2 separate regions of the Homo sapiens genome follow, and region 2 is linked to region 1. Evidence: fine-mapped expression QTL. Tissue or cell type: sun-exposed skin. Region 1 holds a variant in brackets; the other region holds the start of a gene. All regions are shown on one strand. Distances are from middle to middle.

Region 1 (8,176 bases):
GAAGTGACCGCAGTGGGAGCAGGACTGTCTGAGTCCTAGGAAGTGACCACAGGGGGAGCAGGACTATCTGAGTCCTAGGAAGTGACCGCAGTGGGAGCAGGACTGTCTGAGTCCTAGGAAGTGACCGCAGTGGGAGCAGGACTGTCTGAGTCCTAGCAAGTGACACAGGGGGAGCAGGACCGTCTGAGTCCTAGGAAGTGACCGCAGTGGGAGCAGGACCGTCTGAGTCCTAGGAAGTGACCGCACTGGGAGCAGGACCGTCTGAGTCCTAGGAAGTGACCGCAGTGGGAGCAGGACCATCTGAGTCCTAGGAAGTTACCGCAGTGGGAGCAGGGCCGTCTGAGTCCTAGGAAGTGACCGCAGTGGGAGCAGGACCGTCTGAGTCCTAGGAAGTGACCGCAGTGGGAGCAGGACCGTCTGAGTCCTAGGAAGTGACCGCACTGGGAGCAGGACCGTCTGAGTCCTAGGAAGTTACCGCAGTGGGAGCAGGACCGTCTGAGTCCTAGGAAGTGACCGCACTGGGAGCAGGACCGTCTGAGTCCTAGGAAGTGACCGCACTGGGAGCAGGACCGTCTGAGTCCTAGGAAGTGACCGCAGTGGGAGCAGGACCGTCTGAGTCCTAGGAAGTGACCGCAGTGGGAGCAGGACCGTCTGAGTCCTAGGAAGTGACCGCACTGGGAGCAGGACCGTCTGAGTCCTAGGAAGTGACCGCACTGGGAGCAGGACCGTCTGAGTCCTAGGAAGTGACCGCACTGGGAGCAGGACCGTCTGAGTCCTAGGAAGTGACTGCAGGGGGAGCAGGACTGACTGTGGGGAGGGCTGCAGGGAGGTTTCAGCTCTGTGTGCAGAGGGACATCCTTGATAGGTAGGGAGTTCCCCGTCCTGGAGGGTGTGCGAGCAGAGGCAAGAGATCGAATTTGGACAGGAAGGCCTTTCAGCCCTCCCAGGAGACCTCCTTTCTTTTTTTTCCTTTTCTTTCTTTTTTTCTTTCTTTCTTTTTTTTTTTTGTTTGAGATGGTGCCATGCTCTGTCACCCAGACTGGAGTGCAGTGGTGCAGTCTCGGTTCACTGCAACCTCCACCTCCCAGGTTCAAGTGATTCTCCTGCCTCAGCCTCCCGAGTAGCTGGGTTTACAGGCATGAGCCACCACACCTGGCTAATTTTTGTATTTTTAGTAGAGATGGAGTTTTACTATGTTGGCCAGGCTGGTCTCGGAATTCCTGACCTCAAGTGATCCACCCGCCTCAGCCTCCCAAAGTGCTGGGATTACAGGCGTGAGCCACCACGCTCAGCAATGGAGACCTCCTTTCTATTGCAAAAGCAAATAGTGTAGCGTCAGGATGGGAGTGGGATCAGGTACTGAGGTTGTCAGTTTCTGTTATTTCTTTTTTCTTTTAGTGATGATTCCTGCGTATTCCAAGAACCGGGCCTATGCCATCTTCTTCATAGTCTTCACTGTGATAGGTGAGTGCAGGTAACGTGGCCAGCATTTTGTGACAGGATCCCGAGAGCTCAGGGACCGATACACCCTGCTGCCTCCACGACCTGAAACTTCACATCCGTGTTTTTCACTCCAGAGATCACCCCAGGGATCCCCTGCCAACAGCTTTTAACCCCAGAGATCCCCCACCAACAGCTTCACCCGAGGGATCCCCCACCCCACGGCTTCACCCCAGGGATCTCCCGCCAACAGGTTCACCCCAGGGATCCCCCACCAACAGCTTCACCCCAGAGATCCCCCACCAACAGCTTCACCCGAGGGATCCCCCACCAACAGCTTCACCCCAGGGATCTCCCACCAGCAGCTTCACCCCAGGGATCCCTCACCAACAGCTTCACCCCAGGGATCCCCCACCAACAGCTTCACCCCAGGGATCCCTCACCAACAGCTTCACCCCAGGGATCCCCCACCCCACGGCTTCACCCCAGGGATCCCCCGCCAACAGGTTCACCCCAGGGATCCCCCACCAACAGCTTCACCCCGGGGATCCCCCACCAACAGCTTCACCCCAGGGATCCCCCACCAACAGCTTCACCCCAGGGATCCCCCATGCCACGGCTTCACCCCAGGGATCCCCCACCAACAGCTTCACCCCAGGGATCCCCCACCAACAGCTTCACCCCAGGGATCCCCCACCCCACACTTTCTGTTCTGTCCCCACCATTGACCTCGTCATCCTCCCACCTGTGACTGCGCTGGCCAGGCCATGTTTCCATTTGATAGGGGACGCCCCCGGCGCTGTGCTATCCTGTGCCGGCCACCCTTGCGTTGGTTTTGCTGCTGTACTGGTGGCGCCCCTGACCGTGGCTGTCTCCTCTTGAAGGAAGCCTGTTTCTGATGAACCTGCTGACAGCCATCATCTACAGTCAGTTCCGGGGCTACCTGATGGTGAGCGAGCTCCCCAATGCTGGCTGTGCCTGGAGCTGCCGGGAGGCCAAGCAGGGTGTGGCTTGAGATGAGCAGCTGGGTGACCCTTGCTGGCCAGGCCCCTGGTGGGACGGGAGGGCAGGGTTGCCACCTCTTGTGGATCAGCCGGGGATGCACATGTGTTGTTGCTCTAGCCACTGCCAGAGATGGCAACTCCCAGGACAGCAGACCCTAAACCCTCTTGAGGGGGAGCTGGGGGCGCCCCCAACACACAGAGGAGAAACGCGGCCCAGCATATTGCGCAGCACGCCCGTCAGACTCCTTCCTGTGCGGCCTGTCCCGGGAGTCTGACCAATCCTCTCATTCCTGGGGGGTGAGGGGCTGCCCCCAGGCTGTGGGGAACTGGGCCCCCCCCCAAGGCTGCCCAGACTCCCCCTCTGCCTGTTCCCCAGGGGAGGGAAGGGTCGGGGGTTCTGAGCTGGGGGAGGGCTGATCCTGCCGTTCATAGCCTTCCTCTTTGCAGAAATCTCTCCAGACCTCGCTGTTTCGGAGGCGGCTGGGAACCCGGGCTGCCTTTGAAGTCCTATCCTCCATGGTGGGGGAGGGAGGAGCCTTCCCTCAGGCGTGAGTGCTGGGCATGGACCCTCTTCTCCCTGAGGGTGGGTGCTGTGGCTGCTGGGCAGGGGCCGGGTGTTCATTAGGGGCTTCTTGTGCTTGGCCTGTGCCTCGCCCCTGCTGGCTGGCACCCGACTCATGGAAACCACCATGTCCCTGGCGCTCTGTGGTTCCCGGCGTCCTTGTCCTGAGTCCATGCCTTTGTCTTCGTGCCCCCCGGGGACCCTGGGCTGGTGAAGGGCCGAGTGGCCCGGCCTTCTTGTCCCCCTTTGTGCTCTTCTACCCTTCTGTGCTGACTTAGGCAGCAGAGCCAGAGGTGCGTGGGCCAGGTGTCCACACCACCATCCTGCTTGGAAATGAGGGCAGAGAGCTTGAGGGACATTGCAGTGGAAAGTTCTGGTCCTGACTGCTCATAGTGGTGAAGTCAGTTTGCGCCTTCTCGGGGGGACGGCAGTGGCAGGATGCTCGTTACAGGGGCTCTTGGTGTGGCTCAAGCTGCAAAGTGGCTTCATGGCAAAGCTCAAGCCAGACGCCAGGGCAGGAGGACCCAGGCCAGGGTTCCAAGGGAGCCGAGCTGGCTGTGCTCACCGGGCTGTGGGTTTTTCCCTGCAGAGTTGGGGTGAAGCCCCAGAACTTGCTGCAGGTGCTTCAGAAGGTCCAGCTGGACAGCTCCCACAAACAGGCCATGATGGAGGTACCCGCCCCCTGCTCCCAGCCTCCTCTGGGCTCCTCCCGGGAGGTCACTTGGGCCAGCAGCCCCTTTTCAGGACTAGGGGTGTGGCTTCAGGTCACCTGCAGCATTCACAGCCCGTCAGGGTGGGGTTGGGGCTGGGGGCGCTCACCTTCGAGGGCGCTCACCTTCCCGTGCGCCCCTGCTGACCTGTGCTCCTTCCTGTGCAGAAGGTGCGTTCCTATG[G/A]CAGTGTTCTGCTCTCAGCTGAGGAGTTTCAGAAGCTCTTCAACGAGCTTGACAGAAGTGTGGTTAAAGAGGTAACTGGGGCCACAGCCGCCCAGGGTGGATAGTGGGGGCCTTCCAGTTTCCCCTGCCCTTGATCACCTGGGGAACTCTTCTAATGATCAGTGCTGGGATTCACCTGCCAGGGATCCTGGCTCCTAGTATGGGAACTGGGAATGGAGTTCTCTTTGGCTCTTGGAGACTGGGGAGATTTTTATGAAATTCACCAGACCCCAGGAACTAGCCTGAGCCCAGCCCGACATGAAGGAGTCTTCCAAATGGTCTTCTCGGTTTCCATGACAGACTCTCCTTTTCCTGTCTGTCCTTCCTCAGGAGGTCCACACACTGGTCCTCTCCAAGGCCTTTGCCTTTCACCCTTGACACTTACAAAGTTCCCAGGTGGGCCTCAGCATCCGACTAAGCTCTGTGTCCAGAAGGCCTGGGCCAGGTGGGTGGAGACAGTGGGAAACAGCCCAGGTGCTCACAGGCAGTGTGGGGGCAGCACGGGGGCTGCCATTCCAGCTGCTCAGCCTCAGAGGACTGAGCCAGACCCTGGAACAGGGATGGGGCAGAGAGGTGGGGTGGCAGACGCCTGCCAGTTCTGTGTCACTTTTCTCGTTTGCTCAGGCTCCTGGGACGGCACCACAGACTGGGGCGGGGGCAGGGCTGAAGCAGCAGACATTTGTTATCTCACAGTCCTGGCCGTCAGTCCAAGGCCAAGTGTCACAGGGCTGGTTCCTCCTGAGGCCCCTCTCAGTGGCTTGTAGGTGCTGTTCTTTCCCCATGTCCTCACCTGAGGCCTCTCTCCGTGGCCTGTAGATGCCAGCCTCTCCCTGTGTCCTCACCTGAGGCCTCTCTCCGTGGCTTGTAGATGCCAGCCTCTCCCTGTGTCCTCACCTGAGGCCTCTCTCCATGGCTGTAGACATCGCCTTCTCCCTGTATCCTCACGTGGTCATCCCTCTGTGTGTCATCTCCTCCTCTTATAAGGACCCTATTCAGATTGGATTAGGGCCCATTCTAATGGCCTTGTTTTAACTAAATTACCTTTTAAAAGGCCCTGTCTCCAAATATAGTCACATTCTGAGCTACTGGGGGTTAGAGGTTAAAGATACGAATTTCGAGGGAGACAAAATTCAACCCATAGCAACTGTCAGCTGCTTCAGGATTCCTTGTCGGCCCCTGTGGCTGCAGGACCCTGTCAGAGGTGGTTCTCTAAAAAACATTGTTTTCCTAAGGTCCTTCCAGACCTCTGTAGTCAGGCCCTGCCCCAGCCTGAGCTTGAGTGCCACGCACTCGTCCCCATCCTCACTTCGGGCATCCTCTTTAGGGCTGCATTCCTCATTGTGGCACCCCCAGCCCCTTGGGGCATATGGGCGATGAGTGTGGTGAGGATCAGTAGGTGGCAGTTTGAATATTCACGCCATCAAACCTCTGTTTGGGACAAGGCTGGGCAATGCGTTATCAACTTAAGGTTGACTTGAAGATACGAAATAAATTTTACCAGGTGCAGATTTCACAGAAACTGTGGAGATGGTCCTCAGATAACAGAAAGTTAAGAAGCACCATTCTAGATAAAGGCGCTTGTCCTAGGGGCGGAGCTGTTTGGGGCTCAGGAAGCAGCTCTTAGCGGCTGTCGTAGGCTAGGTTTGCTGTGATCCGGCCCATGTTTAACCCAGACGGACACCTTGGCCAAGAGAGATTTCAGCATTATCTATTATGTCTAAATTGTTACAAGGAGAAGGTGTTCGTATGTTAGCTGTGTAACTGAGAGATAACTGATATGACTAAAGGGGCAGGCAGACACAGGCTGGGAGAAGCCAGTCATCCTAAAGGTTCTGGAAAGGTGGTTTTTGTTCCTCAGGCTTTGCTCCTGGTGTGTTCTGGGCCATCTGGGCTCTCCCTGGGCAGTTGTTGCCGTTCCCTAGGGCGTGGTTGAGTCCTGGTTGTCCAGAGCTGACTCTCCCACCCTTTTCCAGTGTCAGGATTTGGTGAGACCTGGAAAGGGGTTCCTCCTCCCGTGATGATGTGGAGGAAGGGCGGATGGATTGCTTTGGCCGTGACCCAGTAGAGCGGGCTTGTGTGCGCACAGGAGTGGGGAAGGCCCAACACGCAGGCCTGGCCTGATTCCCAGCCTGGTGGTCTCCCTGGAGGTCCCGGCGATGCTCTTCCCAGGGCACCGAGCACTGGGCTTTGAGATGGGAGTTTAGGTTCCACAGGTTTTGGGAGCCACAATAGCCTTAATCTGGTTTTCTGACTCCTTCTTTCCTCAATAATGCTGACTGTAGAGGGGAGGCCGTTGCCCCTCGGTATCTGCAGGGATTGGTTCTAGGACTCCATGTGGATACAAAATCCATGGATGTTTAAGTCTCTTAAGATGATGTAGTGTTTGCATGTAACCTACACACATCCTTCCGTATACTTTAAGTCATTTCTAGACTACTTGGAATACCTAGCACCTAGGAATGCAGTGGGAGTTTGGGGAATAAGGGTAAGAAAACCTGTACATGCTCCGTACAGATGCTTTTTCCCTGAGTATGTTTTGATCTGCAGTTGGTTCAGTCTGCGGACGCAGAGCCCGCTGACGTGAAGGGCTGGCAGAGCTTCAGTTTGGGAGGCAGATGCTTCTGGGATTGCTCAGATTTGGGGCAGCCTGTGGTTTTGGAAGCACAAAGAGGTCCTTTCTCGGCAGGCTGACGTCATGGGAGCTCCAGCCTTTTCGAGAGCCCTCCCGTGTGGGGTCACTGCCTGGGCGTCAGCCTGGCCGTGGCCAGGGAGTCGGTTGGTGCTTGCTGGCGAGCTTCAGAGAAGGTGCCCTGCCTGCTGCTGAAAGAAGTCTCCTCTTCATATGAGAAGCTTTTGGGGTTAAAAATGTAGTGGTCATTCATTATAGACAACAGAGGGAAGTGGGAAAATCCACCTCACGGGCTTTCTACCCAGAGACAAGCACTTTAGTCATATCAGTTATCTCTCAGTTACACAGCTAACATATGAACACCTTCTCCTTGTAACAATTTAGACGTAATAGATAATGCTGAAATCTCTCTTGGCCAAGGTGTCCGTCTGGGTTAAACAGAAAGTGTCATGTACGGCAGTGGCAACTACGATAAAAGAGTAACTGCAAGATGTAAGGAAACCATGTGGTGTCCTTGGGCTGAGGGGAGTGCATGAGGAAGGATGGACCTGGAAGGGGACCCTCCGAAGCTGGGGTTCAGACCTCTTGAGAGCAGGTGTGGTTTTGCCCACAGGAATGCAGAGACGTTCACTGGCTTCCCCGGGCTGCGGTTGGTTTGTGGTCACTGGGTAAGCAGGAGGCGACCCTCCTGGGTGCAGCAGGCCCAGGCTGTGAGCAGGCAGTGGCGTGGTCCTGCCGAGGGAATTCGGTGCCAGTGTGGGCAGGTGGCCTTTGGGCACTGGTTTCCACATTGAGGACTGTGGGAAGCTGGGAAATTTTCAGGAGGTCAGGCTGTGGCTGTAGGTCCCCTGGGGACTATGTGTCTCGGACAGAGCGTGTCCAGATGTGCTTAACACCACACTCCGATCCACCCCGTAGCATCCGGAAACCGCAGGGGAGGCCTGCCCTCCTGCTCTGTCCCTCCACCTGCCCTCCTGCTCTGTCCCTCCACCTGCCCTCCTGCCGTGTCCCTCCACCTGCCCTCCTGCGGTGTCCCTCCACCTGCCCTCCTGCCGTGTCCCTCCACCTGCCCTCCTGCCGTGTCCCTCCACCTGCCCTCCTGCCGTGTCCCTCCACCTGCCCTCCTGCTGTGTCCCTCCACCTGCCCTCCTGCTGTGTCCCTCCACCTGCCCTCCTGCCGTGTCCCTCCACCTGCCCTCCTGCCATGTCCCTCCACCTGCCCTCCTGCCCTCGTGCCATGTCCCTCCACTTGCCCTCCTGCCCTCATGCCATGTCCCTCCACTTGCCCTCCTGCCCTCCTGCCATGTCCCTCCACTTGCCCTCCTGCCATGCCCCTCCACCTGCCCTCCTGCTGTGTCCCTCCACCTGCCCTCCTGCCATGTCCCTCCACCTGCCCTCCTGCCACGTCCCTCCACCTGCCCTCCTGCCCTCCTGCCATGTCCCTCCACCTGCCCTCGTGCCATGTCCCTCCACTTGCCCTCCTGCCCTCCTGCCATGTCCCTCCACTTGCCCTCCTGCCCTCCTGCCATGTCCCTCCACCTGCCCTCCTGCCGTGTCCCTCCACCTGCCCTCCTGCCGTGTCCCTTCACCTGCCCTCCTGCCATGTCCC
Region 2 (8,169 bases), 24 kb before region 1:
CCAGCCTGGCCAACATGGTCAAACCCCGTCTCTACTAAAAACACAAAAATTAACTGGGCGTGGTGGCGTGTGCATGTAATTCCAGCTACTCAGGAGGCTGAGGCAGGAGAATCCCTTGAACCTGGGAGGCGGAGGTTGCAGTGAGCTGAGGTCGTGCCATTGCACTCCAGCCTGGCGACAGAGCGAGACTCTGTCTCAAAAAAAAAAAAAAGAAAAAAAAAAGAAAAGAAAGTAAAGTGGTGACAGAACAGCTGCTCCATAGACAGAGTTAGGACGTTCCGGAAAGTAAGGAGGAACGTGTCCACCCTAGGTATAATACTCGTTTATATATAGGATGAAAAAAGATCAAAGATCATGAGGACACGTGCTCTGCCACTGGGGTTTGTGATAAAGAATTTTCCTAATTACTGTATTTTGCAAGAATTGATATTATTACCTTTAAAGCAAAATTAGGGATGCTTCTGTTCTGAAGATATCAGGATATCAGCACACTCCCAAGTCTAGGTCTGCTTAGTAAACATTATCAATCTGTTCCCTTAACTGTGAACGCCTCACTTTCTGGGAATGCAGCCTGATAAAGCCCCAGCCTCATTTTTCCTAGTCCTCACTCAAGATGGAGTCGCAGCAAGTCCCAGCCTCATTTTCCCTAGTCCTCACTCAAGATGGAGTCGCAGCAAGTCCCAGCCTCATTTTTCCTAGTCCTCACTCAAGATGGAGTCGCAGCAAGTCCCAGCCTCATTTTTCCTAGTCCTAACTCAAGATGGAGTCGCTCTGGTTCGAATGCCTCAGACATAATCATATGAGCCCTTGGCTCACTGCAACCTCTGTCTCCCAGGTTCAAGCGATTCTCCTGTCTCAGCCTCCTGAGTAGCTGGGATTACAGGCGCCTGCCACCATGCCTGGCTAATTTTTGTATTTTTAGTAGAGACGGCGTTTCACCATGTTGGTCAAGCTGGTCTCGAACTCCTGACCTCAGGTGATCCGCCTGCCTTGGTCTCCCAAAGTGCTGGGATTACAGGCATGAGCCACTGTACCTGGCCTGAAAGCAGAGTCTTGACGAATTATTTGTACACTCATGTTCACAGCAGCATTATTCACAATAGTCAAAAGGTGGAAGCAACCCAGTGCCCATCCATGGATGACTGGATAAGCAAAATGTCATGGATACATACAGTGGAGTATTATTCAGCTTTAAAAAGGAAGGAAATTTGGACACATGCTACATGGATGAACCTTGAGGATTTTAGGCTAAATGACATAAGCCAGTCACAAAAGAACAAATACTGCAGGATTCCACTTAAATGAGGAACCTAGAGTCGCCAAAATCTTAGGGATAGAAAGGAGAATGGTGGTTTCCAGGGGCTGAGGGAATGAGGAGTCAGTGCTTAATGGGTCCAGAATTTCAGTTTTGCAAGATAAAAAGAGTTCTGGAGTTGGAGGTGATAGTTGTATAGCATCATTAATATATTTAATATCAATGAGCTGTACACTTCAATATAGTTATGTGAACTAAAAATATCTGAGACAGGTCTCGATCTATTTAGTAAGTTTATTTTGCCAAGGTTAAGGAGTGCCTGGGAGGCAGGTCTATGCCTTCCTTCAAGGATGATTTGTAGGACTTCAATATTTAAAGGGGAAACTGGCCAGGTGCTGTGGCGGAGGTTGCTGAGTGACCTGAGATCGCACCACTGCACTCTAGCCTGGGCAACGAAGCAAGACTCTGTCTCAAAAAAAAAAAAAAAAAAAAAAAAGGGAAAGGGTGGATATTGGGAAAGAGGGAGAAATTTTAAAAATATGTGGAGAGATAAGAGACAAAGGTTGCATTCTTGTGAGTCTTTGATCAGACTTTCACTGAAATACACAATTTACAGGTTGCGGGGGTAGAGGAATAGTCACTTATGCCTTAGTCTGGCTCGGTGAATCTGCACTTTTATACCAGAGGAAGCAATCAGGTGAGCAGAGGGATGACTTAGAGTTCCATCCTTTGTTTGGAACCTGTGAAGATCAGTTGTCAATGTACATTGTTAGGGTAAAATTCAACAAAACTGTTTTAGGGTAAAGATCTTGGGTGCCCACGAAAAATTTCCTAGCGGGCAAATTGTGAGGGAGGTATGTAGCTTTTTAAATCTTCGTAGCTATTTTATTAAAGAAGAAAAGGCGAGGCAGTTTGCCCAACGCAGTTCCCAGCTTGACTTTTCCCTTTGGCTTAGTGATTTTGGAGTCCTGAGATTTATTTTCCTTTCACAGTTATGATGGTAAATTTTATATTTATTTTAAACCCTCCCCCCTCCCCAAAAGAGGGGGAAAAAGTAAAGAGGTATGGCAGAAGGGGAAGTCACAGAGATTGGAAGCGTCTTGCAGCACCTTTTTTTTTGAGATGGAGTCTCGCTCTGTTGCCAGGCTGGAGTGCAGTGGCGCAATCTCAGCTCACTGCAATTTCCGCCTCCCGGGTTCAAGCGATTCCCCTGCCTCAGCCTCCGAGTAGCTGGGACTATAGACACGTGCCACCACGTCTGGCTAACTTTTTGTATTTCAGTAGAGACGGGGCTTCACCATGTTGGCCAGGATGGTCTCGATCTCCTGACCTCGTGATCCACCTGCCTCGGTCTCCCAAAGGGCTGGGATTACAGGCGTCTTGCTGCATCTCGAAGCGTCTTCAGCGTGCTCTTGCTTGCTGGCTCTGATGATGGAGGTGTTCAAGCCATCGTGGAAGGAATGCAGTGGCCTCTAGGAGTGAGAATGACACCAGCCAACATCCAGCAAGAAGACGTGGACTTCAGTCCTAGGCCCATGGAGACAATTCTGTTAACATCCTGGATGAGCCTGGAAGTGGGCTTTCCCCAGAGTCTGCAGATAAGAGCCCACGGCAGCTGACATTTTGACTCTAGCCTCGTGAGGCCCTGAGACAGGAGGTTTCCTGCCCCGCAGGACTGAAAGATGATGAATGGGAGTTATTTTATATTTTCAGATTGTGGTAATTAGTCACTGTAGCAATAGAAAACGAATACAAGGTCTTTATGCATTAATGTTGAAAACACTTTTTATATACGTTGTAAATATTTTTTAAGTGTGTCATATGTTTTTAAACTTTTCCCTTAATGATATTGAATCCTCCTAATTTCACCATCAGAGGGTAAACTCCAGTTCCATTCTGGGGGGAGTCCTTTGCAGTCACCCCGTGTACTCAATACTCACATGCATCAGAATCACCCCGAATGCTTGTTAAAACACAGATTCCTGGGTCCTCCCCGCAGAGTTGCTGATTTAGTAGGTTTAAGGGCCCAAGAATTTGCATTTCTAAAATGTTTCCAGGTGATGCTGAAGCTTCTGGCCGGAAAGACATCCTTTGAGAACATATTTCCTCCCCAGCCCTCGGCCCTTAAGCCCCAGAACGCTGCCCCGCCCTGGGTGGAACGAAGCTGAGCTCCACCCTAGAGGGGCGGGGCCCTTTAGCTCCGCCCCACTCAGGAGAACCCCACCCCTCCCTCCCCGTTCTCATTGGCTGGGACTGCAGGGATCCCCTGCGCCACAGTGCCGTGCGCGCGTCAGCAAAAACGCCAGGGACGGGGTCTCCGCGCCTGCGCAGTGAAGCTGGGCGCCTTCGGGGCTTGAGCTTCTGAGGGTCGGGTCCAGCGCGTGGGCTGCTGGATGGCGGAACCCCAGGCGGAGTCGGAGCCCCTGCTGGGCGGGGCCCGCGGCGGTGGCGGCGACTGGCCGGCGGGGCTGACCACTTACCGCAGCATCCAAGTCGGCCCTGGTGAGCCGCCCGGACCTGGGGAGGGGACTGGCCCGGGAGACCAGGGTCGCGCGTGGGGGTCCCGCTGTCCCAGCACCCCGCTTTCTGCCGGGCGCGCCCCCACCAGGTTCGAGTCCGAGCGGGGCCCGGGCCGCGCCGGGTGCCAGGCGAGCCGGTGTTCTGAGGGCGAGTGGGCTGCGTCCTGCGGACCCGGACCGGGGTCAGGGCAGAGCTGGGGTCTCTTCCGTGTCGCGTCCTGATCCCGACCAGCTGGGCGAAGAGGCCCTCGCCCAGCCTTGGGCAGCCCCGAGGGAACCGGCCACCTGCGGCAGGCACCCTCCGTGTGCCCGGGCGGGCCCAGACCCCATACTTCCCGACTGTCGCCGTAATGAGGGTCGCCTAATTGACTCAGAGAAGGCAGCACTTTGATTTTTCCCGTTTCTTCTGGAAAAAGCAGAGGCTCACAGAGAGGCGTTACCCTACCCAAGGTCACACACCCAGTAAGTGGCCGAGGTGGGATTCGAACCAGTTGGGAGCTAGGAGTCCTTTCTTTGTAGGGTGCCTTTCCCCGTCCCACTTCCCGTGGGGCTGGGGCGGGCCCCCTAGACGGGGGCGGCTTCCTCTCCTTGCCCTCTGCCACCCCAGAGTCCCCTCTGCACTCCCTCCTGCCCTTCCCGTTTTTTGTCCTGGTCTGAAGATTGCTGAATCCGCCCCCCGAGGGTGGGGTGCGTCCGCCCCTCGCTGACACCAGGGGAATGAGATTCTGGATTAAGAGGTGGAAGGACCTTAGCTTCACTTCACAGATGAGGAAACTGAGGCCCAGAGAGGCCCTGAGACCTGCCCAAGGTCACAGCCCTCTGTTCTGGTGCGGCTGCTGCTCGAACCACTCTGAGAATTCACACCTGGCTCCTTCCCTCTCTGGCCTCTCTTTCCTTCTTTCCTCCTCTGTCTGGAAGGAACTGGGTTGGAATCCTGGTGCCCACCCACTGGTCTGTGGCATGTGCCCATCCATGGAGTAATGAGGGGCCAAGGAGGGGACCCTGACGAGAGATGAAAAACCAGAGGCCAAGGTGGCCACCCTGTCTGCTCACCTCAGAAGCTGCCTCCAGGAAGTTCTTCAGGTGCTTCCTGGGACCAGTCAGGAAGGAGATCTGCAGGGAGCAGCTCTGGCAGGCCCCTTGATGAGACGCCCAGCATATGGCACCGTTCAGGGAACACAGACTTTGTGTCTAGGGGTCTGGGCGCCTTTCTGGGGCTGCACTGGCTGTGTGACCTTGGCAGGTTGCTTAACCTTTCTGTTTCTTTTTTGAGATGGAGTATCACTCTGTCACCCAGGCTGGAGTGCAGTGGCGTGATCTCGGCTCACTGCAGCCTCTACCTCTGCTGGGTTGAAGCGATTCTCCCGCCTCAGCCTCCCAAGTAGCTGGGACTGCAGGCGCCCGCCACCACACTTGGCTAATTTTTGTATTTTTAGTAGAGATGGGGTTTCACTGTGTTGGCCAGGGTGGTCTCAAACTCCTGACCTCGGGTGATCTGCCTGCCTCGGCCTCCCAAAGTGGTGGGATTACAGGCGTGAGCCACTGTGCCTGGCCATGCTTCACCTTTCCGAATCTCAGTAAAAGGGAGATAATACTAAGGACTGCCTGGCGGGCATTGTGAGGATTCAGAGAGAATCCAGAGTTTGTCCTCAGCACAGGGCCCGGCGGGCTGGTGTGGGGGCCAGTGGCCGTCCTGGGTAAGCTCTGTGATCATTGCAGGTCCTCCCTGGCAGGTGAGACCCGCTCTGCTGGGCAGTGTGGCTGACAAGAGGAGGCTCTCGGGGAGCGCTCTTTGTCCCTATGCTGTGGCCTCAGCCAGGGCTTCTGAGAACGTGGACAGGACGCTCTGTGTTCTGAATCCCCTTGGCCAGGGTCCCCAGCAAGGACTGGCAGACTATGGAGCCATGGAGACTCCGAAAGGCTCATTCAGTCTCTGTGCTGAGGCCTGTGCCAGGCTTTGAAATGAAGGCCCTGTGCTCTGGTTTGCAAGTCCTGTGGTTGGTCTCTTGCCAACGGGTTGTGGTGAGGGCTGCTGCTGTGGGTGCCCCAAGGACCCCAGTGGACCCTGCTGTTGGGTCGTTTTGACTTGGCCCCACCTGATGGGGCCGGGGTCAAAGGTTGAGAACAGTTGTTTTCTCTTGTTGCTGGGTCAGAAAAATCACACTTTTACTGGTTATCAAACAAGTCAGAGGACAAGGGATTGCGATGCTGTAGAGGCTTTCAGAGTAACTGAATGCTTATGAAGGGCTCACTTAGCAAAGTACTCTGGCTATAGTAAGTCATTCAGTCTGTACTTAGCTCCTATTGGGTGGGGGTCCATGAGGACCTGGAGCACCTAGAGGTTAAGGGACTTGCCCAGGGTCACAGAGGATGATGGTCAGGACCCTACACAGGTTGTGCAGCCTGGAGCCTGGAGCAACAGGGGAGCGGGAGCTCAGACCTGGATGTTGCGGGGCAGAGGCTTGGATTAGGAAGCCGTGTCGAGGCCTGGTGTGCCGGATGCAGCATCTCAGCCCCTGCTGTCCTCTGTGCCTTGCAGAACCCTTCAGCCCCAGTGGGTGATGGTGTGTGGAAAGGTGATTGTCCCCCAGGGTGATGAGCTCAGGGCGGGGCGAGCTGTCCCAAGGGAGTCCCTGGACTCACAAATTGGGGGATGGTGCTCCTGGCAGAAGCAGCAGCCTGAGTAAAGGGTTGGAGGCTTTGGAGAGCATGGCCTTGGCAGAGCCCAGTTCGGAATGAGTGGCACTGAGGGTTGAAAGGCAGGAGAGAGGCGGGCCGGCAAATGTGGGAACCTGCAGTGCCAGACCAGGGTGGAGTGTGGGCCTGGAATAGTGGGGGCCCAGGGGAAGCTGCGATGTGCTTCTGAGTGTTTGGAACGAGATCCTTGGGCTGTTGCAGGGTGAAACGGAGGATGGCCAGACCCAGAATTTTACAAACCAGCAACCAAAAAGCCAGGCGAAAGGGAACCACGAGTGCTGGATGGTTCCAGGGGTGCCCACCACTGTTGGCCTGGGATGGCTGGCCTGGGTGGATGTGAGTACTTTCCGTGGTCCTGGGGCTGGAGTGAGGCCCGGAACTCGGCCGCTTGTCTCTTGTCTAAGAAGCTTGTATCACTAGATCTCTCCTGGTAGAGATTTTGTCTTCTCCCAGGGAATCTGGTAAGGTGGGGCCTCTCAGATCACCGGCCCCCCAGGCTCCCCTCAGGGCTGTTCATTTATTCATGGGATATATCAGCTTTGAGTCCTGTGTGCTTGACTTCTGGGCTCTGCAGATACAGCAGGGAACAAAACAGTGTGGCTTCTGTTCATAGCGATCCCAGGATGTGCTCAGGGGACATAAACAGTAGCCACTTTCAGAGCTTCCCTGGGGAGACATTCGGGTGTCCTCAGGGTGGGTCTCGTGGCTGTGCATGTGGGCACCAAAGCCACAGGGAGGGAAGGCTCTTGCTCCCGGCAGTGCAGCAGGGCCGGGCAGAGTGAGGGTGGGGTCCGGTCTCCTGCCTCTGTCTGGGGCCCCTCACACCTCTAATCCGTCCAGGGCCCAGCTGCCTATACCTCATGCCCCCAAGCAGGAGCCCCGAGGACAGGGGCAGCTGCCTCCCTAAGGATGGCCAGTGGCGTGGGCGGGTCATGGCCTGGAGCTCTGCCTGGGGACCAGCACCTCCTGAGGCCTCTGCTGCTGCCTCCCATGTCACCACATTGTCTTGGTGCAGCTGTGGGCCCCAAGGGGCCAGGTGTGAAAGCCGAGTCTCAACTGAAAAAGCAGCTGCTTCACCCTCTCCCCGTGCTGGGAAGTGTCAGCCTCTCCGGGCTCCTCAGTTGCTTCGGGTTGAGTTTTCCTTCCCTGTTGGCCTGCTGGGGAGCAGCTCTGCAGCGAGGCCAGAGGTGGCCCGTGCCTACGATGCGGGTGGGTGGCCCAGGCTCCCTGCAGTGGCTCAGTGGCTGACCAGGTGCGCCCGCTGGCTGCTCTGTGGCAGGTGAGGGGCTTGTGAGCAGGCCAGGGTGCTGGGTCCTGGCTTCTGTGCCGCCTGACTTTTCCTGAAGGCCCCTCCTAGTCAGGAGCCACTGCCGCTTTTGCCCAGGCCTGCCGGGAGGCTCCACCCTGCTTGTGCTGTTGGTAAAGGCGGGCGGCCACCCTTCACCACAGAAGGCACCGGCAGAGGCTGGGGGACTCGGGCGTTCCTGCAGCTCTGACCCTGGGAGTGATTTGGGTGGGCTTGCCTGGGCCCATGGACCGGGACAGTGAGGGAATGGGACCTTGGTAGCACTCATGAAGCCTCATGGCAGTGCCTTTGGGTTCTAGATGCCAGTTCTCCCTGTCACTGTTGAATCCGAGGTCTGGTTTGATGGGGGTGGGTGGGACACTGGGTACAGTGTCCTGGCTCATGAAGACTGT

Evidence for each region. PIP is the estimated chance that this variant, and not a neighbour inherited with it, causes the effect.
Region 2: it holds the start of TPCN2, and the variant in region 1 is fine-mapped to the expression of TPCN2 in sun-exposed skin (GTEx, PIP above 0.99).

The regions. Positions count from the first base shown.
Region 1 is chr11:69,069,032-69,077,207 of GRCh38, forward strand. It overlaps TPCN2 (two pore segment channel 2), which reads left to right. Exons shown (of 25, transcript NM_139075.4): 9 at 1,399-1,464; 10 at 2,325-2,389; 11 at 2,892-2,992; 12 at 3,596-3,677; 13 at 3,884-3,970. Among named protein-coding and RNA genes, the nearest start is that of MIR3164, 10 kb to the right of the region's middle. The variant G/A (reference allele first, on the strand shown) is at 3,900.
Region 2 is chr11:69,045,350-69,053,518 of GRCh38, forward strand. It overlaps TPCN2 (two pore segment channel 2), which reads left to right and starts at 3,583. Exons shown (of 25, transcript NM_139075.4): 1 at 3,583-3,757. The coding sequence starts at 3,649. RefSeq lists silencers at 3,321-3,540, 3,661-3,830, 3,911-4,010 and enhancers at 5,987-6,561, 7,712-8,169.